Homo sapiens: one gene and its partners. The gene in region 2 interacts genetically with the main gene of each other region. Each region holds a gene or a part of one and is shown on either strand. Other genes may lie near its edges.

What was found.
Region 1: changes in PTK6 (region 2) and CYP4F12 together harm fitness more than expected from each alone (negative genetic interaction), as found in Homo sapiens cells (one large-scale study listed by BioGRID).
Region 3: changes in PTK6 (region 2) and CRYBB1 together harm fitness more than expected from each alone (negative genetic interaction), as found in Homo sapiens cells (one large-scale study listed by BioGRID).
Region 4: changes in PTK6 (region 2) and GPI together harm fitness more than expected from each alone (negative genetic interaction), as found in Homo sapiens cells (one large-scale study listed by BioGRID).

Annotation. Positions count from the first base shown.
Region 1 is NC_000019.10:15,692,099-15,697,863, reverse strand, and holds the end of CYP4F12 (cytochrome P450 4F12), read right to left. Parts: intron 1,929-5,765; coding exon 1,795-1,928; intron 1,704-1,794; coding exon 1,639-1,703; exon of another isoform or gene 1,435-1,638; coding exon 1,352-1,434; intron 957-1,351; coding exon 779-956; 3' UTR 690-778; downstream 1-689. UniProt on the Homo sapiens protein: A cytochrome P450 monooxygenase involved in the metabolism of endogenous polyunsaturated fatty acids (PUFAs).
Region 2 is NC_000020.11:63,526,243-63,531,945, forward strand, and holds the end of PTK6 (protein-tyrosine kinase 6), read right to left. Parts: intron 4,686-5,703; coding exon 4,504-4,685; intron 3,990-4,503; coding exon 3,836-3,989; intron 3,482-3,835; coding exon 3,294-3,481; 3' UTR 1,759-3,293; downstream 1-1,758. UniProt on the Homo sapiens protein: Non-receptor tyrosine-protein kinase implicated in the regulation of a variety of signaling pathways that control the differentiation and maintenance of normal epithelia, as well as tumor growth.
Region 3 is NC_000022.11:26,611,528-26,617,292, forward strand, and holds part of CRYBB1 (beta-crystallin B1), read right to left. Parts: intron 4,812-5,765; 5' UTR 4,793-4,811; coding exon 4,613-4,792; intron 664-4,612; coding exon 545-663; intron 1-544. UniProt on the Homo sapiens protein: Crystallins are the dominant structural components of the vertebrate eye lens.
Region 4 is NC_000019.10:34,370,682-34,376,446, reverse strand, and holds part of GPI (glucose-6-phosphate isomerase), read right to left. Parts: intron 1-5,765. UniProt on the Homo sapiens protein: In the cytoplasm, catalyzes the conversion of glucose-6-phosphate to fructose-6-phosphate, the second step in glycolysis, and the reverse reaction during gluconeogenesis.

The DNA of each region.
Region 1 (5,765 bases), on a different chromosome or scaffold from region 2:
ATCTCAAGGGTCAAACAGGATGTTCCTGACTGCACCCCACCCCAAGATGGGTCAGTGATGGGAATGAAGGAGGAATCTAGAGGTGAAAGGGTGAAGACGTGCCCAACCCCTGACACTTGTGAGAGTGCCTGGCACATAGCAGAAGAGAGTAGGGGGAGGATTCAGATAGCAGCTGATGGACAAGCAGCCTGGGCAGAGTCAGAGGGCTCAAAAGAGGAAAAATAGGAGCTGCCTGAAGTTAGGGAAAGGGGTCACAAAAGCGATCAACTGGAAGGGGGAGACATAGGGTGGGACATTAGCAAGAAAGGAAACAGAACTCCTGAGAGCCTGCCAGGGTATAAGCTGCACCCTTCTATCCTTGTGTTCTGAACTGGCCAGGGACCTCGGTCTTGGGACACTCCCAGACCAAAAGAAAGGATCTGCCCCTATGGTTGCTTCTCACTTAGCCTCAGTCGTACCTCTTAAATCCGTTCTTAATCCTGGTCCCTCTCCTGCTCAAAAACCTCCCATGGCTCCACATTGTCCACAGGATAAAGTCCATACTTGGGCTCTGAGAGACCCTGCTATAAGCATGGAGGCCCTATGCTCAGCCAAAGAGGCAGTCAGGTTCTTGGTTTCAGGGAAAACATCCCGCCTAACCCACCCAGGTTAGGCCCCTTCCCTGAAGCCTCCCAGTCCCCAAGAGCCCCCTGCAGGCTGTCAGTGAGGCCCAGGCAGAGGTGACAGCACCGTTTTATTCATGACAATCTGCAAAAAAACAGGTGGATGGGTCAGAAAGTCACTGCAAGCTTACATTCAGGGGCTCCACCCGCAGCCAAAGCCCGCCCTCGGCGCGCATGATCAATTCCAGCTTCCTGCGGGGCTCAGTGTGGTCTGGCAGGAACCGGAAGTGCAGCAGCATCAACGCCAGGACCACTTTCATCTCCGCCATGGCGAACGCCTGCCCGATGCAGTTCCTGCAGGCGGGAGTGGGGACTGTGACTGTGCCCAAGACCCGCATTTGGGTCCCATCAACCCAGGAACCTGGCCTGGGACCCCCAACTGCACCCAGCTCAGCCTGAGAGAGAGAGAGAAAGACTAAGCGTGCCTGGGACTCCCATGTGGGCTTGTATGTCCCGGAGACTGGGCCTGACTCCAGCTCCCAGCTCAGACCAGCAGATGGAGAAGGGGATTTTGAGCACTCCGCGGACCCCTCTAGGACCTACTCATCCCCATTCTATGGACGTTTTCCCATAAACTGTGAAGGAATGGAGGGAAGGAGAGCTGGAACTGGGACCATCTGCAACGTCCCCCTTTTTTTAACTCCCGCACCCATCATCCCATCCCTGCCTCAGACACAGGGCGCTCTTACCTGGGCCCTGCGGAGAAAGGAATAAAAGCCAGAGGTGACCTCCCCTTGCTGTTCTCTGGGTCAAAGCGGAAGGGGTCGTAGACCTGCAGGTGAGACAAAGAAGGTTTGCCAGTGGGATTTCCTATGTCCAGCAGCCTTGGAGAGACACTTGTGTGTGTTTTGGGGTGAGGTGATGTTGGATTTTCCTCATCAAAACCCTGCCCCCTCCACTAGGAACCTTGGAATTCACACACACACACACAAAAGTAGAGGATGGGGGTGGTGGTGGTGAATGGGGAAGGCAGCACCTCAGGATCCGGCCACACAGTTGGGTTGTGATGGACCCCTATAATATCGATGAGGCAGGTAATGCCTGTGGGAGAGAAAGGGGCAGTCAGGACAAGGATCCCCTGAGGGAACCATCTTCCTACCCGGGAGGCTTCTCCCCCTGAGGCTGTGGGCACCTTTGGGGATGACTCGGCCATCTGGGAGAACAATGTCCTGGGTGCAGCATCGGGAGATGAAGGGAGCTGGGGGATGTAACCTCAGGCTCTCCTTCACGCACATGGTCAGGAAGGGCAGCTGGGCCAGGTCGTCCCTAAGGAAACACCCCAGCCCCAGTCATTATCAAGGGAACAAATACACAACTCTCCACCTTTTCTATTTGCAAATGAGACCTTTTCTCCCTATCACAAAATAAACTCCACGGGGATCAAACATTTGAGAATTTTAAAAAGCAGAAAACAATTAGAGAAGCAGAGAATTAGAAAAGTACCAGAGAAAATTTAGCCAAATAGATAAAAATAAATACTCTGAGGAAAACACCCAGAAGCCAGCGGTAAAAAATTAACAAACTCACATAAAAATAAATATTGTCTATGGCAAGAAAGCAAACTCAAATGCAAATGAATAACAAACAAAATACCCAGATCCAATGTTTTGCTCTTATTTAGCGTGATGCTAGAGATACCAGCAAGTGCAATTAGGCAAGGGAAAAAAGGAGAGTCATGCAATTTGTTTTTTTTTTTTTATTATTATTATACTTTTAGGGTACATGTGCACAATGTGCAGGTTAGTTACATATGTATACATGTGCCATGCTGGTGTGCTGCACCCATTAACTCATCATTTAGCATTAGTTATATCTCCTAATGCTATCCCTTCCCCCTCCCCCCACCCCACAACAGTCCCCAGAGTGTGATGTTCCCCTTCCTGTGTCCATGTGTTCTCATTGTTCAATTCCCACCTATGAGTGAGAACATGCGGTGTTTGGTTTTTTTGTCTTTGCGATAGTTTACTGAGAATGATGATTTCCAATTTCATCCATGTCCCTACAAGGGACATGAACTCATCATTTTTTATGGCTGCATAGTATTCCATGGTGTATATGTGCCACATTTTCTTAATCCAGTCTATCATTGTTGGACATTTGGGTTGGTTCCAAGTCTTTGCTGTTGTGAATAGTGCCGCAATAAACATACATGTGCATGTGTCTTTATAGCCGCATGATTTATAGTCCTTTGGGTATATACCCAGTAATGGGATGGCTGGGTCAAATGGTATTTCTAGTTCTAGATCCCTGAGGAATCGCCACACTGACTTCCACCATGGTTGAACTAGTTTACAGTCCCACCAACAGTGTAAAAGTGTTCCTATTTCTCCACATCCTGTCCAGCACCTGTTGTTTCCTGACTTTTTAATGATTGCCATTCTAACTGGTGTGAGATGGTATCTCATTGTGGTTTTGATTTGCATTTCTTTGATGGCCAGTGATGGTGAGCATTTTTTCATGTGTTTTTTGGCTGCATAAAGTGTTGGAAGTTCTGGCCAGGGCAATTAGGCAGGAGAAGGAAATAAAGGTTATTCAATTAGGAAAAGAAGACGTCAAATTGTCCCTGTTTGCAGATGACATGATTGTATATCTAGAAAACCCCATTGTCTCAGCCCAAAATCTCCTTAAGCTGATAAGCAACTTCAGCAAAGTCTCAGGATACAAAATCAATGGACAAAAATCACAAGCATTCTTATACACCAATAACAGACAAACAGAGAGCCAAATCATGAGTGAACTCCCATTCACAACTGCTTCAAAGAGAAGAAAATACCTAGGAATCCAACTTACAAGGGACGTGAAGGACCTCTTCAAGGAGAACTACAAACCACTGCTCAATGAAATAAAAGAGGGTGCAAAGAAAGGGAAGAACATTCCATGCTCATGGGTAGGAAGAATCAATATCATGAAAATGGCCATACTGCCCAAGATAATTTATAGATTCAATGCCATCCCCATCAAGCTACCAATGACTTTCTTCACAGAATTGGAAAAAACTACTTTAAAGTTCATATGGCACCAAAAAGGAGCCCGCATCGCCAAGTCAATCCTAAGCCAAAAGAACAAAGCTGGAGGCATCATGCTACTTGACTTCAAACTATACTACAAGGCTACAGTAACCAAAACAGCATGGTACTGGTACCAAAACAGAGATCTAGATCAATGGAACAGAACAGAGCCCTCAGAGTTAATGCCACATGTCTACAACTATCTGATCTTTGACAAACCTGAGAAAAACAAGCAATGGGGAAAGGATTCCCTGTTTAATAAATGGTGCTGGGAAAACTGGCTAGCCATATGTAGAAAGCTGAAACTAGATCCCTTCCTTACACCTTATACAAAAATTAATTCAAGATGGAATAAAGACTTAAACGTTAGACCTAAAACCATAAAAACCCTAGAAGAAAACCGAGGCATTACCATTCAAGACATAGACATGGGCAAGGACTTCATGTCTAAAACACCAAAAGCAATGGCAACAAAAGCCAAAATTGACAAATGGGATCTAATTAAACTAAAGAGCTTCTGCACAGCAAAAGAAACTACCATCAGAGTGAACAGGCAACGTACAAAATGGGAGAAAATTTTCGCAACCTACTCATCTGACAGAGGGCTAATATCCAGAATCTACAATGAAGTCAAACAAATTTACAAGAAAAAAACAACTCCATCAAAAAGTGGGCGAAGGACATGAACAGACACTTCTCAAAAGAAGACATTTATGCAGCCAAAAAAACACGAGAGTCAGGCAATTTGAAATGTGGTAGTAAATGTATCATTTTGGCAGATAGTGATTTTATACTTAGAAAACACTAGAGGCCCCACTGGAAAACGTTTATAAACATTTAAGATCAAGCAAAGGAGCTGAATTCTCTGCTTAATCTTTCTTCTTTTGCAGTGGCTATTTAAAATTTTCATACCGTCTACAATTATCTGGTTCAGAATTTGAAAACTATAAAACATAATTCACTCCTATGGCCCAATGCCATTTACTTCTCCCCACACGTTGCCAGGTTATTATTTTTTTTAATGTATGCTTTCTGGGCTGATTTTAAGCATCTTAAAAAATTATATAGGAGCACACCATCTACTGTAGACACTATTCTGTATCTTTTTTGATGGGGGGAGGGAATGGAGTCTCTGTTGCTCAGGCTGGAGTGCAGTGACACAATCTTGTCTCACTGCAACCTCCACCTCCCTGGTTCAAGTGATTCTACTGCCTCAGCCTCCCAAGTAGCTGGGACTACAGGCATTCACCACAACAGCCAGCTAATTTTTTTTTTTATTTTTAGTAGAGATGGAGTTTCCCCAATTTGGCAAGGCTGGTCTTGAACTCCTGATCTCAAGTGATCTGCCCACCTTGGCCTCACAAAGTACTGGGATTACAGTCATGAACCACCGTGGCTGGCGTGTATCTTTTCTCTCATTTAACAGTTTATCACTTTTTCATAGCCCCTGGGACTTACGTCAAAATAAGGTTATCCCTACTCTGGCGCTATGAAATAATTTTCTCATGGTTCCTTCTAGAGCTTTTAGGACTCTTTTAGAAAAAAATGATTAATCTGAACATTATCTTGTCATAAGATATGAGAACAAGGTTCAGTTGCCTTTTTTCCAGAAGGCTTTCCAGTTGCCCCAAGAGCTTTTACTTAATTATCTATATTTTTTCTCTTGATACAGATACCATCTTTAGCATATACTATGTTCACTGGGCATAGAATTTATATGCATAAATCATTAGTTTTACCATATAGAAATAACCATCAAATGAAAAGATAATAAAAGAAAAGATACTAGTCATAATAATATAAAATACCTGGATTAAACTTAAAAAGAAACATGAAATCTCTGTATTTCATTATAAATTTCCCTCAATCCAAATAAAACATACACTTTATCACACAATAAATGTTTGCAGGGGTTGATTTAACAACAAAAAAAGCCACTCTGCCAGATATTAAAACCCATTAGAAAGTCAGAGTATTGGGAGGCCGAGGTGGGTGGATCACTTGAGGTCAAGAGTTTGAGACCAGCCTGACCAATGTGGTGAAACCTCATCTCTACCTAAAACAAGAATTAGCCAGGCGTGGTGGAGGGTGCCTG
Region 2 (5,703 bases):
GGTTAATCACTATTCTTGTTCCACTTACATAAATAACCACACCAGGTTTAATGAGGCCAAACTTACTCTGCAATCAAATCAATCTTTTATTATCTTTGATAGAAATGTGTTAATTTGAAAACAATCCTACTTTTATTATCTTTGATAGAAATGCGTTAATTTGCAGCCGGTCACGGTGGCTCACACCTGTAATCCCAGCACTTTGGGAAGCCGAGGTGGGCGGATCACCTGAGGTCAGGAGTTCGAGACCAGCCTGGCCAACATGGCAAAACCCTATCTCTACTAAAAATACAAAAATTAGTCGGGCGTGGTAGCAGGCACCTGTAATCCCAGAGACTTGGGAGGCTGAGGCAGGAGAATCACTTGAACCCGAGAGGCAGAGGTTGCAGTGAGCCAATATTGCGCCATTGCACTCCAGCCTGGGCGACAGAGCGAGACTCCATCTCAAAAAAAAAAAGGAAGAAGGAAATTTGTTGGCTGGGTGCGGTGGCTCACACCTGTAATCCCAGCATTTTGGGAGGCCGAGGTGGGTGGATCACCTGAGGTCGGGAGTTCGAGACCAACCTGACCAACGTGAAGAAACCCCATCTCTACTGAAAGTACAAAAATTAGCTGGGCGTGGTGGCGCATGCCTGTAATCCCAGCTACTCGGGAGGCTGAGGCAGGAGAATCACTTGAACCCGGGAGGCAGAGGTTGCCGTGAGCCGAGATCAAGCCATTGCACTCCAGCCTGTGCAATAAGAGCGAAACTCTATCTCAAAAAAAAAAAAAGAAAAAGAAATTTGTTGACTGTAGAGAGAAAAATTATGTTTCAAAATAAAACTCGTGCCCCCACTATTAGACTCTAGCCCGGTTTGCTGTCTGGAGGTTTTGTCGCCCACCTGTGGTCCGGACCGGGTCCTGAACTTCAGTTTCCTCCAATATTTGCCTACAGCTCACCAAACCACTCTTTCCAATTTTTTCTTCCACCATTCCTCATGGAGTCACTGAAAATTAAAACTGCTCTTTTCCCAAAGCCCTGTAAGCTGAAGCTGCCCCACTTGATACAGACTTCAGAGAAATTTCCCCAGCAACTCTCGTACAGACGGCTTTCGTGCCCAGGCTGGGCGCAGCAGCTCAGGCCTGTAGTCCCGAGGCAGGAGGATTGCTAGAGCCCAGGAGTTCGAGACCAGCCTGGGCAACATAGCAAGACCCTGAATCTCCTAAAAAAAAAAAAATTTAAAATTAGCCAGGTGTGGTGGTGCATTCCTGTAGTCCCAACTATTCAGGAGGCTGAGGCGGGAGGATCACTTGAGCCTGGGAATTCAAGGCTGCAATGAGCTGTGGTCACGCCACTGCGCTCCAGCCTGGGTGACAGAGCAAGACCCTGTCTTCAAAAACAAAAACAGAAACAAAAAACGTTTTCTTACATCTGGAAAACAAAATATTAAAGAACCGTAATGCTTCAGACAAAAGTCATTAAACAGTAAACATCCTCGTCAGTTCATTCATTCCCATGTCATTAATTCTTGTTCTGGTTGATCCTGGGACAGAACTTTCATGGACCTGCCAGGTCCCTCCTTCGAGTTCTGGAAATTTGCACCCAATCCAAGGCTATGACCTGAACCAGAAACCTGTGCTCCAGAGCACCTGTCAGAATCCTTCCCAGGAATCTCTTTGAAGAATAAACAATTTGGGACTAGCTGATTGCAAAGCTTTCAGAAAAAATCAAAGTAAGATAATAACTGTGAATGACCGAAGACTTAAGATAGCCATGGCTCAGGATCTGATGAGAGTTTATTATATTCGTGACACGGTTGGCAAGGAAACTTGGTTATTTCTGTGGCATGCAGCATTTTAATGTAATAACCAAAATTATGACTGATAACATTGCACCAGATTTCTAGGAATAGCATGTGAGATAGGATATATATCATAGGATAACGTATCAGATTTCTAGGAATTTTATAGAGTTTCTGCAACATTCATATCAAAACCAAACCCGTAAATAGAACCTCCAGAAGACTTAGTGTGACTTACTATTTCACACGCTTTCCATCTCATGTAGCACATCGGATAAGCCTGATTAGTCTGACATCTGTCTTTCACAAGGCAGAAGACAAATCCTTTTGAGAAATCCTAGTACCTTTCCAGAAACTCCCAAAATTATTTTTCTTTCTTTCTTTTTTTTTTTTTTTTTTTTGAGATGGAGTCTCGCTCTGTCGCCCAGGCTGGAGTGCAGTGGCGCGATCTCGGCTCACTGCAAGCTCCACCTCCCGGGTTCACACCAGTCTGCTGCCTCAGCCTCCCACGTAGCTGGGACTACAGGCGCCCACCCCCACCACCACACCCAGCTAATTTTTTGTATTTTTTAGTAGAGACGGGGTTTCACCGTGTTAGCCAGGATGGTGTCGATCTCCTGACCTCGTGATCCACCTGCCTCAGCCTCCCAAAGTGCTGGGATTACAGGCATGAGCCACCGTGCCCCGCCTATTCTTCTTTTAAACCAAAAAAACTTTCAGGTGAGTCAAAACCAAAACCAATAAGCTTTTTATGACTTAACCATGGATGAAAGAGACACCTTCAAAATCAGGTGCAAAGGAGGCAGCCCCCCCAGCCCGGAACCACCCCACAGACAGTAGAGAAGGGCCCTTGTCAGCGCAGGAGTGAGGGGCGCTTTCCAGCACTGACCCAGCGACAAAGGTGAAGGTGGGAAAAGCCCCTTGTGGACGTGGACGGTGAAACTGAGCTGGCGCCTCGGGCAGTGATGCTTGGGCTGGCAGAGACCAGGGAGAGAGTTCTCACTGGTCATAAGGCCAAGCTCTCAAGACACAAGACAAACAGGAAAGAAACACCTGCCCCTGGGAGGAAAGAACCCTTGAGCACCAAAACCAAATTTACATGAGCGTCCCGAGCCACGCGAATGACTTTCTCCCACCAAGCTGAACTGGGAAGAGCAGGAACAAGGCGTGTTTGCCTCCCACCCTCAGCCGGGCACTGCAGACAGACAGCCAGAGAGCGGGCTGTGGTCAGAGTCCCCTCTGACCTCTGCTGGCTTCGTGTCAGTCTCCCGGATCTCATCTGCAGGCTCCAGAGCAGGCTGCGTGTCAGCAGCTGAGACCCAAGGCACACACGATGGAGTAAGGAGAGGAGCACACGCGTGTATTGGACGCAGACACTCCACATTTGTGAACCTTTCCTGCACCCATCACCTCAGTAAACCCCAGGGAAGCGCGTGGGCCTTGATCCCAGGTCCAGGCCCTCTGCCCAGGCCCCTCCTCAGCAGGGCCCGGCCATGCCCGCTCCACAGCAGCTCAGGTCGGGTTCTCGTAGCTGGTGAAGCTGGAGAGCCTCTCCCGCAGGGCCTTGAAGCAGGGTCTCTGCTCGGGGTCCCTGCACCAGCATGTCAGCATCAGCTTGTGCACGCTGGGCGGGCACTCCAGAGGGCAGGGCATGCGGTAGCCGGCGTCCACCCTCAGGAAGGCCTCATGGTTGGACATGCCTGCGGCCGACAGGGATGAGAAGAGCTGGGGCCCACCTGCCTACCCTCCCCCAAGAAGCCACACCAGCCATCCACTGCCCCTTCCTGGGGCCTTCCCCGCAGCCTCAGCTGCCATGCCTTGGCGCCACCCAGCACACTGTCCACTGCTAACACCTCCCTCTGGACAGGGCTCCAACAGGCAGCTCCAGGCACCAGCCTGGGTGCTCAGAGAATGGTGCAGGTGTGGAGTTCAGGCGATGGCCCGCGGAGGGCCCTGAAGCCCGTGGGGGAGGCACCCCCCAGCGTCCCTGCCGGCTACCCAGGACCTCCCCCACTCTGCCTCTCATGCCCAGTCAGGGACAGTGGGGACAGTACCTGGGTAGGGCACCTGACCCCTGCTGAACATCTCATGCAGGAGAATCCCAAAGGACCAGACGTCGGATTTGGTGGAGTAATGGCCTCGGGAGAGCGCTTCAGGGGCCGTCCACTTGTAGGGGATATTGTGGTCATGGGAGAGGTAGACGTCCTCCTGCAATCAGCCTGGAGCTGAGTGGGCCGTGGGGGCTGCCTGTGCCCTGCCCCCGAAGCATGGACGGGCACAGCGGCCGCATTGCCCCAGCAGTGGGACGGTGATGACCCCACTGTCTGACCCACGCACGGCCGCTGCAGCTAAGGCCACACTGGGGCCTGACCACCTTCAGGAGCCCAACTTCCCCTGGGATTGCAGGTGTGTGGGGACCGGAGGGCCCGGGGGACAGGGAACTGGGAGGCTCCCAGGCCGTCAGAGGGGCCCAGGGCTGGGCCAGTGAACAAGGCACGTGAACAAGGCAGCGGCTGCGTGGTGGGCCCTGCTGTGCGTGCCATTCAGAATGGGGGCCCCACCGGACTCACGGTGGCTTCCCACCTCCCTGCCCAGCCTGGGCTCCCGAGGGCAGGGGCCGCATCCTGCTCCCAGCCGAGTCCCCAGCTCCACACACAGGAAGCCCCCAGCCCTCCGGCCACGCCCCGGCCACGACCCCAGCCACGCCCTCTGAGGGCCCTACCTTGATAAGCCTGGCTAACCCGAAGTCCCCAACTTTGCAGAGGGTGTTTTCCCCGACGAGGATGTTCCTGGCGGCCAGGTCCCGGTGGATGTAATTCTGCGACTCCAGGTAACACATGCCCTCAGCCACCTGCCAGGCGATGTCCAGCAGCTCCGAAACGGGCAGGACTTTCTCATCAGAGTCTGCAGAGGGGAGTGGAGCAGAGCCTGGGGTCAGCTGAGCCAGCTGAGGTGGGGAAGGGTTGGGGAGGCTGGGCCATGTCTCATCTGCCTCCAAGCTCTGCGGGCTCAGAGGAGGGGCCGGGGCAAAGGGCAGCTGGCCTGATTGAAAATTGGAACTGCAGGCCAGCTACCGCCCTTCTGGAAGGCAACTGTTTATCACGAACCAAGGAGCAAGCTGGGCGTGGTGGCTCACGCCTGTAATCCCAGCACTTTGAGAGGCTGAGGCGGATGGATCACGAGGTCAGGAGATCGAGACCATCCTGGCTAACACGGTGAAACCCCATCTCTACTAAAAATACAAAAAATTAGCCGGGCGTGGTGGCGGGCGCCTGTAGTCCCAGCTACTCGGGAGGCTGAGGCAGGAGAATGGCGTGAACCCGGGAGGCGGAGCTTGCAGTGAGCCGAGATCACGCCACTGCACTCCAGCCTGGGCGACAGAGCCAGACTCCGTCTCAAAAAAAAAAAAAAAAAATATATATATATATATATATATATATAATTAGCTGGGCGTGGTGACAGGTGCCTGTAATCTCAGCTACTCAGGTGGCTGAGGCAGGAGAATCATTTGAACCCAGGAGGTGGAGGTTACAGTGAGCCGAGACTGCGCCATTGCACTCCAGCCTGGGCGACAGAGTGAGACTCCGTCTCAAAAAAAAAAAAAAGAACCAAGGAGCAGTTCCTAGTGGTCTAGCCCAGCGATTTCCCTTCTGGAAGTTTGTGATGACGCGGGAGGAGCTGGACGCAGAAGGACCAGCGAAGAGGCTCATGACTGCGTGATGTAGGCAGTGGGAACTCGAACAGGAGAATGGCTGTCAGCGGCTTGCGGCCTGGTGGTGCCTGTTTTACCCCACATTCCCTCCCGGAGGACCCTGAAGGGCGTGGGGACTGTCTGAGATGATCAAGCCCTTTGTGTGAGGGCGAGGGGTACGGAGCCTTTCGCTCAGAGCGCAAACGTGCGTGGTGCCTCAGTGTAGCTCTC
Region 3 (5,765 bases), on a different chromosome or scaffold from region 2:
GCAGTGGCGCAATCTCGGCTCACTGCAAGCTCCGCTTCCCGGGTTCACGCCATTCTCCTGCCTCAGCCTCCCGAGTAGCTGGGACTACAGGCGCCCGCCACCACGCCCGGCTAATTTTTTGTATTTTTAGTAGAGACGGGGTTTCACCTTGTTAGCCAGGATGGTCTCGATCTCCTGACCTCGTGATCCACCCGCCTCGGCCTCCCAAAGTGCTGGGATTACAGGCGTGAGCCACCGCGCCCGGCCGGGCTAGAGTTTTTGCTATAGTAGAAGCAGCATTTCTCCAGAGCCCAGAACCATGGCTTACTGCCAGTGTGATCTTATGCTAATTGGATCACCTCTCCGAGCCTCAGTTTCCTCATCCGTAAAATGAGATTGAGAACAATTCCTCCCTCTTCAGTTTGATATGAGGATTGGACATAATGTATGTGCCAGGAGTACGAACGGCCGCAGGCACAGAGCAGATGCTGGAGAAATGGCAGCTACTGTTGTGTGGTCATTTTACTGTGGCAGAGAGTGTGCCCCTCCGCCGCCCAGTACTCACGGTCCCGCGGAGACAATGATGCTGCGCACACGGTCGAAGCCACGGTCTGCCAGATTTGAGCACTCCCCCGAGAATTCTGCTCGACGGCCCTGGAAGTTTTCCAGTTCGAAGACCACCAGCTGCAGGAGAGAAGCCCCCATGCCAAGGGCAGAGTGAGGGGGGAGTCAAAAATTCATTAAGTATCTACATAAATAAAAGCCAGCAGTGCAGGAGTCACATAAAAGTGTGATGAGCCACAGTTTGTGAAATGATCCTGTCCTCCCATCCCCCAATTCTTTACTGATTTTTGTTTTTTGTTTGTTTGTTTGTTTTTCTGAGTCTCACTCTGTCGCCCCAGCTGAAGTTCAGTGGCGCAATCATGGCTCACTGCAACCTCCGCCTCCCAGGCTCAAGCGATCCTCCCACCTCAGCCTCCGAGTAGTTGAGATTACAGGCACCCACCACCATGCCTGGCTATTTTTTGTAGAGACAGGATTTTGCCATGTTGCTCAGGCTGGTCTCGAATTCCTGAGCTCAAATGATTGGCCTGCCTTGGCTTCCCAAAGTGTTGGGATTACAGGCATGAGCCATTGCACCTGGCCTCATGCCCTAATTCTGAAGCTAAGATCTGCGCCATCATTAGGAACTTATGAACCTCCCTTTCAGGCCTTTCTTTGTGCTATTCCTCCTGCCTGGAATGCCTTCTCCACCACACATATCCAGCTTGGAGCTCCCACTGCCTAACTGAAGTTCCCTAATACGCATTCCAGCTCGTTATTCTGTTTTAGGCTCAGGTGCCACCTTCTCCAGGAAGCCTTCTCTGATTGCCCCTTCCTCCATCGGCCTTGGTTGAGCATCCCCCACTGTCCTCTCCCCATTAGCAGCACAACTAACCCACCACACAGTCACTGCTGTTTTGCTTTGGGGTCTCCCTCTCTCTCTGCACTCCCTCTCTCCCATTACCCAGCCCCTCCAAAGACCAAGGACTCCTCCAGGGCAGGGCCTGAGGTTGATCAATTTCTGTATCTCCAGCCCCAGCCCCAGTACCTGCCACAGAGCTGATGCTCAGGAGACACTTGCAAATCCAACCCTCCACAACATAGGGGAAAACTTGAGCTAATCTTCTCTCCTCACTAAGCCTCATGTTTGGTTCCTTGTCCACTTGCTGTTCCAAGTTGGGACAACGTTGCCATTCACATGGACCAAGGCACAATTTTCTGCCTTCTTTGAGCCTCAGTTTCCCCAGCTGTAAGAGGAGGGGAGGTTCATATAACCATGACCCAGCACTTCCACTTCTACCTTTGGTTGCCCAAGAGAAACTCCTGTATGTGTGCCCCGGGATGTTGCGGGAAGTCAGGGACCCCAAACGGAGGAACTGGCTGAAGCCATGGCAGAAGAACGTGGATTGTGAAGATTTCATGGACATTTATTAGTTCCCCAAATTAATACTTTTGTAATTTCTTATGCCTGTCTTTACTGCAATCTGTAAACATAAATTGTAAAGATTTCATGGACACTTATCACTTCCCCAATCAATACCCTTGTGCTTTCCTATGCCTGTCTTTACTTTAATCTCTTAATCCTGTCAGCTGAGGAGGATGTATGTCGCCTCAGGACCGTGTGATAATTGCATTAACTGCACAAATTGTACAGCATGTGTGTTTGAGCAATATGAAATGTGGGCACCTTAAAAAAGAACAGGATAACAGCAATTGTTCAGGGAATAAGAGAGATAACCTTAAACTCTGACCGCCAGTGAGCCGGGCAGAACAGAGCCATATTTCTCTTCTTTCAAAAGCAAATGGGAGAAATATCGCTGAATTCTTTTTCTCAGCATGGAACATCCCTGAGAAAGAGAATGCGCACCTGGGGTTAGGTCTCTAAACTGGCCCCCCTGGGCGTGGTCGTCTCTTATGGTCGACGCTGCAGAGATGAGATAGACTCCAGTCTCCCATAGCTCTCCCAGGCTTATTAGGAAGAGGAAATTCCTGCCTAATAAATTTTGGCCAGACCGGTTGATCTCAAAACCCTGTCTCCTGATAAGATGTTATCAATGACAATGGTGCCCAAAACTTCATTAGCAATTTTAATTTTGCCCCGGTCCTGTGATCCTGTGATCTCTCCCTGCCTCCACTTGCCCTGTGATATTCTATTACCTTGTAAAGTACTTGATGTCTGTGACCCACACCTATTCTCACACTCCCTCCCCTTTTGAAACTCCCTAATAAAAACTTGCTGGTTTTTGCAGCTTGTGGGGCATCACGGAACCTACTGACATGTGATGTCTCCCCCGGACGCCCAGCTTTACAATTTTTCTCTTTTGTACTCTGTCCCTTTATTTCTCAAGCTGGCCGACGCTTAGGAAAAATAGAAAAGAATCTATGTGAATATCGGGGCAGGTTCCCCGATACCAGGAGACAGGGATAAGAACGTCCAAGCCATGCTGTTCACGAGAGCAAAGCTAGCAACCACTGAAATCGTGCTTAGCAGGAAAGAGATGGTCACGCTCTGAAATATCAGGCAGCAGCCAGAATGAATGGCCGGCAGTCATGCGCAACAATATGGATGGATATTAGGGATCTCATAGTAAGTGAAAAGTACAAAGAAAAGCCCAGAATAATCACATTGCATATTTCAATAAATTAAAAACAAGTAAATCGGCCAGTTGCGGTGGCTCACACCTATAATTCCAGCACTTGGGGAGGCGGAGGCTAGGAGTTCGAGACCAGCCTGGATAATATGGCAAAACCCGTCTCATAATTCGGTCTCAAAATAAATGAATAAATAAAACAAGTAAATAAATATACATGTGTATGTGTGTATACATTTTTAAAGGAATAATGCATAAAATTGTATACAAAAGCAAGCAAGCAGATTACAGACACAGGTTGAGGATAGGACAGTATTTCCTGGAGTTGGGGAGGAAAATGATGGACTCAAGGGAGACACCTTAGAGTTAGGTAGAAAGTTTTTAACCAAGTCCTGGCTTTTATATGGGTGGTGGGTTTGTAGGTGCATATTGCATTATTAGAAATTAAATAAAACTAATGATTAAATAGGTACATAAATAAAAACCTGCCACGCACTGACCACATGAGAGCGTGTCATGAACTAGGGGTTGCAAAATGGCCTACTTCTGTGACCTGAGGTTGAAACCACACCAAACCAAATCCCAGGGGACTGGACACCTTGCTCCACAGGATGCCTTTCAGCCCAGACCACCTCGAGCAATTTTGAGGGTCTGAGGCCATCCTGCTGCCCCAGTGAGCCTCCAAGGACAGCTGGTTCCCTGCTGCTAAGCCAGCCCACTTCCTTTTCTTCTTTTTTTTTCTTGCTTTCGATAAACTCTAAGCATGTGCGTGTGCAGGTGTAGCCTGATTGCCAGGTGTCCCTTCAGCTGTGAAGCGGTATGGTTTGGTTGTTGTTATTGCACAACTCAACTATAGGTCCCCTTTTTCTTTCTATTCTTTTCTTTTTTTTTTTGATGGAGTCTCCCTCTGTTGCCCAGGCTGGAGTGCAGTGGCATGATCTCAGCTCACTGCAACCTCCGCCTCCTGGGTTCAAGTGATTCTCCTGCCTCAGCCTCCCAAGTAGCTGGGATTACAGGCGCCCACCACTACGCCTGGCTAATTTTTGTATTTTTAGTAGAGACAGGGTTTCACCATGTTGGCCAGGCTGGTCTCGAACTCCTGACCTCAGGTGATCCACCTGCCTCGGCCTCCCAAAGTGCTGGGATTACAGGCATGAGCCACTGCGCCCGGCCCCACTTTCTCCAAGTGTGTCAGAACCCCTGGCTATTTTATGGGCTCCCAGATTGGCTGGGCCACACTTGTGTCCCAGAAGGAGGAGGGAGGAGGAGGCCAAGGTGAGGGAAAAAGAGAATAGGGACAGAGGATAAGAGTCTGGGGAGGTGGAGAAGAAGAAAAGGGAGAGTAAATAGAAAGGAGAGAAAATAAGCCAAGAAAAAGGAGGAGAAAGAGGTGCGGAGGAGTAAGAGGTGAAAGAGGAAGAGGAGGAGGAGAAGAAGGAGGAGGAGGGAAGGAAGGAAAGAAGGCATGGCACCCAGCCACTGCACCCCCAGGTCCTTACCCTGTAGTTCCCAGGAGGCAGTTCCGCCGCCTTGGCGCTGGTAATAGGCACGGTTGTTGGGGCCAGGGTAGTGCCGGGACTAGGGGATGTTCCTGCAGGTGGGGCCCCCTTCCCCTTGGTGTCAGGCCCTGGGTTCACCGCCACTGTGGCCGAGGCCGAGGCCTTTGCAGCCTGAGACATGGTTCCCGCCTGCAAAAGTCTGTAAAGAAACTCTGGCCTTCAGGGATGACACCCCCAAACTGCCTCCTGCCCTCATAGCCCCACATCCTGTGCTTTCAGCCTCCTTGGAGCTCGTTTCCTCTCTATCTCCTTCTGAAACGGTTAAGCCTGGAAGTTTTTCTTTCATCCCTACTTCCCAGCCAAGACCTTCCCGTCTGGGGGCCACTCATCCCACATATATCCTTCCTCCAGGCTTTTGACCATGCGGTTCCCTCCACTAGCTGTTCCACCCTCCATTACCCCGCTAGGTCCTTCCTTAGCCCCCTGCAATTTTCCACACTGCTTATCACACTGATTTGCTTGTGCAACTCCAATTTGCCTCCCTAGACTAATAACAAGAAGTCCCATTTGGGAGTACTTAAGGTGTGCCAGGCACTGTGACATACATTAATTAACCCATCTGACCATGAACCTCACCCGATGGAGTAGCTGCTATCATGATCCCCTCTGAGCAGCAGGGGGCTGGAGAAGGAAGGGGCCCAGCTCAGGCCCAAACAGCTACTAAGTGGTAGGGCTCTGATTTCAACTCAAGGAAATGGAGCCAGCAACTGGGCTTTTAAAGTATTCTGCCATTTGCTTAATCTGATTTATTCACCGTCCATCCCTAACACTTGCTCTGCACCTGGCACATAGGAGATGCCCAATTAACATTTGTTCAGAGAATGAATGAATGCATGCTCCCAGCTCCTTTCCCCGTCTGCTTCCTCTGAGGGGTTGGTGTATGGGTGCAAATACAGGCCGGGGACTGAGGCTTATGGGAGGACCCAAGAGGATGTATTTACTGCATGTGGAGGGTTCTGAAAATGAGGACTGGGGCTGGGTAGGCTTTGGGTGGAGAGGGCTTTGGTCAATTCCAGTGGTTCCTTGTTGCTTTGGGGTCGTGGACTCCTTTGAATGTTTGATGAATACCTCAACTTTGTCCCCGGACAAAAAT
Region 4 (5,765 bases), on a different chromosome or scaffold from region 2:
TAGCTGGGATTACAGGCACCTGCCACCCTGCCCAGCTAATTTTTAGTATTTCCAGTAGAGATGGGGTTTCGCCGTGTTGGCCACGCTGGTCTCAAACTCCTGACCTCAGGTGATCCACCTGCCTCGGCCTCCCAAAGCGCTTGGATTACAGGCATGAGCCACCACGCAAAGCCTATTTTATTTTTTGTAGAGACAGCGTCTTGCTACGTTGCCCAGCCTGGTCTCTAACTCCTGGCCTCAAATAATCCTCCCATCTTGACCTCCCAAAGTGTTGGGATTACAGGCGTGAGCCACTACACAAGGCATAGGAGTCTCTGGAGACCACACTGGTCCCTGCCACACTCACCACCAACTAGACTCTTTCCTGGTTACAACAGTGAGACATCCCTACCTTACAGCGACACTGTCAGAATTTGCAAAACCAGGGATAACTCGGCAGAATCTGCTATGCCAGAGACCAAGAGATGTGAAATGTTGAAAACTGTGACTGGGCTATGCTGGGGAAAGGAGTATCAGACCCGCAGCCAGTCTCCAATCAGACACCAGTGATCCTTGCTTCCTGGAATTCATGCCTCTGCATAGCTTCCGCCTGTGCTGGGAGGGGTGACCTATGCACCCATCCAGAGACTGCAAAAAGGGGTGAAATGTGACTTCAGAAGTGAGTTCAGAGAACGTGCAGTTTCTGCTTTGCTCTCTTGGATGACTCGCTTTGGGGAAGCTGTCTATCATGTTGTGAAGACATTCAAACAGTTTCATAAAGAAGCCCACGCGGCAGCGAACTAAGGCCTTTTTCCAAAAGTCACAGCCAACTCGCTTCCTGTGTATGGGACACTTTAGAGGGGGGTCCTCCAAACCCATCAAAACTTCCGATAACTGGGGCGCTGGCCAACATGTTGACTACAGCCTTATGAGAGATCCCCAAACCAAGACCAACCAGCTAAGCCGCTCCCAAACTTCTGACCCACAGACACTGTGAGAGGTAATAAAAGTTTACTGCTAGGCCGGGCATGGTGGCTCACACCTGTAATCCTGGCACTTTGGGAGACCAAGGCAGGCAGATCACAAGGTCAGGAGTTCGAGACCAGCCTAGTCAACATGGTGAAACCCCGTCTCTGCTAAAAAAAAAAAATACAAAAATTATCCAGGCATGGTGGCGTGTGCCTGTAATCTCAGCTACTCGGGAGGCTGAGGCAGGAGAATTGCTTAAATCCAGGAGGCAGAGGTTGCAGTGAGTGGAGATCACGCCATTGCACTCTAGCCTGGGCGACAGAGCAAGACTCCGTCTTAAAAAAAAAAAAAAAAGTGTATTGCTGTTTTAACCCAAGTTTTGATGTCATTTGTTATACAATGATAGATAACTAATACAGATTTTGGTATCAGAAGTACAGTGTGGTCATAATAAAAACCTAAATATGCAGGCCGGACTCAGTGGCTCATGCCTATAATCCCAGCACTTACTGGGAAACTGAGGCAGGAGGATCACTTGAGGCCAAGAGTTTAAAACTAGCCTGGGCAACATAGCAAGACGTCATCTCTACAAAAAATAAAAAAGTAGCCAGGCATGGTGACATGTGCCTGTAGTCCCAGCAACTTAGAAGGTTGAGGTGGGGAATTGCTTGAGCCCAGGAGTTCGAGGCTGCAGTGAGCAGTGACTGCACCACTGCACTCCAGCCTGGGCGACAGTGTGAGACCCTACCTCAAAAAAAAAAAAAACAAAGAAAAAAAGAAAAAAGAAAGAAAAGAAAAGAAATAATTATCCCATACATACCAGTCATCCCATGCCCACCTCACCATTGTATGCTGGGTGTGTGAGGGGTAATTTGTCTCTTTAAATTCTCATGTCTTCAGATTGAAAGGAACTGTACTAAAGGAAATGCAGGTACTACTACACCTGTACTTGACAAAATGAGGTTCTAGACTTCTAACAGACTTCTAATACTGTAACAGAATATGGACTTAGGAGAAAGTGAGTGGGGTATCTGTGTGTGGAAGGAACAAAATCAATCACTAGGCGCCAGAAGCGGGACTATGATAGTCCCCCACCTTCTAAGATGGTGACCAGTGGTCCTTGTCTCCTGGCATTAACCCACTGATGCAGTCCCTTCCCATGATGACCAGAGCTGATCTGTAACACCAACGGGGTATTATAGAAATCAAAGAGTGTAGCCGGGCGTGGTGGTTCACCCTGTAATCCCAGCATTTTGGGAGGGCAAGGCAGGCGGATCACTTGAGATCAGGAGTTCAAGACCAGCCTGGCCAAAATGGTGAAACCCCATCTCTACTAAAAAAATTTAAAAAAAAAAAAAAAAAAAAAAAGGCGGGCATGGTGGCGGGCACCTGTAATCCCAGCTACTCAGGAGGCTAAGGCAGGAGAATCGCTTGAGCCGGGGACCGGAGGTTGCAGTGAGCCAAGATCACGCCATTGTACTCTGGCCTGGGTGACAAGAGTGAAACTCTGTCTCAAAAAAATAAAAATAAAAAAAAGAAAGAATGTGAATCCTGATATTAGGTCACAAAAGACCTCCAGGCATCTGCCTTACTCTCTATTGGATCACTCACTCTGGGAGAAATAAGCTGCCTTGTCATGAGGACACTCGAACTGTCTGTGCCTCCCAAAGGCAGCACTGCTAGTGAGCCATCTTCAAAGCAGACCCTCCAACCCCCATGAAGCCTTCAAATGACCACATCCTTAGCCAACATCTTGACTGCAACCTTAGAATATCAGAGCCACTACACCAAACACAGCCACTGCAAATTCCCCACATAAAGAGACGGTGATTGTTGCTTCTAGTTGCTAAATTTTGGAATAATTTCCCACACATCAATAAAAAATTACTATACACTAATAAGATCCAGCAATTTTCTTTTAATTTTTTTTTTTTTTTTTTTGGAGATGGAATCTTGCTCTGTCACCCAGGCTGGCATGCAGTGGTGCTATCTCAGCTTACTGAAACCTCCACCTCCCGGGTTCAAGCGATTCTCCTGCCTCAGCCTCCCAAGTAACTGGGACTACCGGCATGCACCACCATGCCCAGTTATAAATTTTTTTTTTTTTTTTGAGACAGAGTCTCGCTCTGTCACCCAGGCTGGAGTGCAGTGGCGCCATCTCAGCTCTCAGTAACCTCCACCTCATGGGTTCAAATGATACTGCTGCCTCAGTCTCCTGAGTAGCTGGAATTATGGGCGCCTGCCACTACTCCTGGCTAATTTTGTTTGTATTTTTAGTAGAGACGGGTTTTGCCATGTAGGCCAGGCTGGTCTCAAACTCCTGACCTGAAGTGATCCGCCCACCTCGGCCTCCCAAAGTGCTAGGACTACAGGTGTGAGCCACAGCACCCAGACTATAAATTATTTTTTAATTAAAAAAAAAAAATAGGCTGGGCACGGTGGCTCACGCCTATAATCCCAGCACTTTGGGAGGCTGAGGTGGACAGATTATGAAGTCAGGAGTTCGAGACCAGCCTAGCCAACATGGTGAAACTCCATCTCTACTAAAAACACAAAAATTAGCTGGGTGTGGTGGCAGGTACCTGTAATCCCAGCTACTCGGGAGGCTGAGGCAGGAGAATCGCTTGAACCTGGGAGGCGGAGGTTGCAGTGAACCGAGATCAGGCCATTGCACTCCAGCCTGGGTGAAAGAGAGAGACTCTGTCTCAAAAAACAAACAAACAAAAAAGAGACAGGGTCTAGGTTGCCCAAGCTAGTCTTGAACTCCTGGCCTGCAGTGATCCGATTCACCCTTCCAAAATGCTGGGATTATACAAGAGCCACTGCACCTTGCTGGGTATTTTTTAGTTTTGTTTTAACGACAGGGTCTCGCTCTGTTGCTCGACCTGGAATGTAGGAGTATGATCATAGCTCACTGCAGCTTCAAATTCCTGGGCTCAAGCAATTCTCCCGCCTCAGCCTCCTAAGCAGCCAGGACTATAGGTACACACCACCACAGCTGGCTAATTTTTAAATTTTTGTTAAAGGCAGGGTCTTGTTATGTTGCCCAGGCTGGTATTATACTCCTGGCCTCAAGCAATCCTCTTGCCTCTGCCTCCCAAAGTGCTGGGATTACAGATGTGAGCAACTGTGCCTGGCCCTACTTTTTCTTTAAATAAACTGCCATGGGAAAATTTCCATCAATACAGAAAGAAATAAAATAAGTTGTTCAACTTCTCAACCCTCCCTCACAGGCGTGTGACAAAAGAGGTTAGAAAAAGCAAGTCTTGGCTGGGTGTGGTGGCTCATGCCTGTAATCCCAGGACTCTGGGAGGCCAAGGTGGGTGGATCACCTGAGGTCAGGAGTTCGAGACCAGCCTGACCAACATGGTGAAACCTCATCTCTACTAAAAATACAAAAATTAGCTGGGTGTGGTGGCGGATGCCTGTAATCCCAGCTACTCAGGAGGCTGAGGCAGGAGAATTGCTTGAACCTGGGAGGCGGAGGTTGCAGTGAGCCGAGAACTCGCCATTGCACTCCAGCCTGGGCAACAGAGTAAGACTCTGTCTCAAAAAAAAAAAAGCAAGTCTCCTTTCCCGACTGTCAAAGGTTTGTTATAATGAAGCATCCCAGAGGAAAAATGTGTCTTTTTTTTTTTCTTTTTGAGACAAAGTCTCACTCTGTTGCCCAAGCTGGAGTGCAGTGGCGTGATCTTGGCTCACTGCAACCTCCACCTCTGGGGTTCAAGTGATTCTCCTGCCTCAGCCTCCCGAGTAGCTGGGACTACAGGCATGCACCACCATGCCAGGCTAACTTTTTTGTATTTTTTTTTAGTAGAGATGGGGTTTCATTATGTTGGCCAGGCTTGTCTTGAACTCCTGACCTCGTGATCCACCCACCTCGGCCTCCCAAGGTGCTGGGATTACAGGTGTGAGCCACTGCACCAAGCCAAATGTGTCTATCTTTATTACAATTACACCCAGCCTTCATTTGACCAAATGAGTCTTTACCATACCCACCAATTCTGCAACTTCCTTTTTCAACTTCCCAGTCCATCCTGAACAGCATGGCAGATCAATCCAACTATAGCTCCCTAATCCCTATTGGTGCCCAGGATGACAGTATATGAATATGTGCTGACTCTACTTTGTAAGTCCCCTGACAAATGAGTACAGCTTGGTTTCAGGTTTTGCCACTACAATCAAGGTCACAGTGAACGTCTTCACCCAATCTTGGCAAACTTTGGAGAGCACAGCCATGGGGAATGTTCCTCACCAGGGGATTACTGCCATTCAGCAACTTTTTTTGAACTATAAATACCTTATCAGCCTGAGTCAGGTACTCCAGTGGCCAGCTTTAAGGGAAGGCTTTCCTGGAAACAGCACCCCAGACGGTGCAGTGCCATCCTCGCCATGTGGCATGGCTGAGCACACCCAGACTGATCACACAGCACTAGGCTTTTAATGCACTTCAGCTCTGCCACTCACAGCAGATGGCTGGAAAGGCCCCGCCACACACCCAAAGACCATCACATGGACTGATCACCCTAAGTGACATTCAGGAAATCCAGATTCCCATCAGGACCCCACAACTTCCTTGCCCTGGAGGCGTCTCACTCTGTCACCTGAGCTGGAGGACAGTGGCACAATCTCAGCTCAGTACAGACTCAACCTCCCGGGCTCAAGCAATCCTCCCACCCCAGCCTCCCAAGTAGCTGGGATACACCACCACACCTAGCTGATTTATTTATTTTTTCCAGAGATGGGTTGGTTTTTTTGTTGGTTTTTTTTTTTTGAGACAGAGCCTCACTCTGTCACCCAGGCTGGAGTGCAGTAGC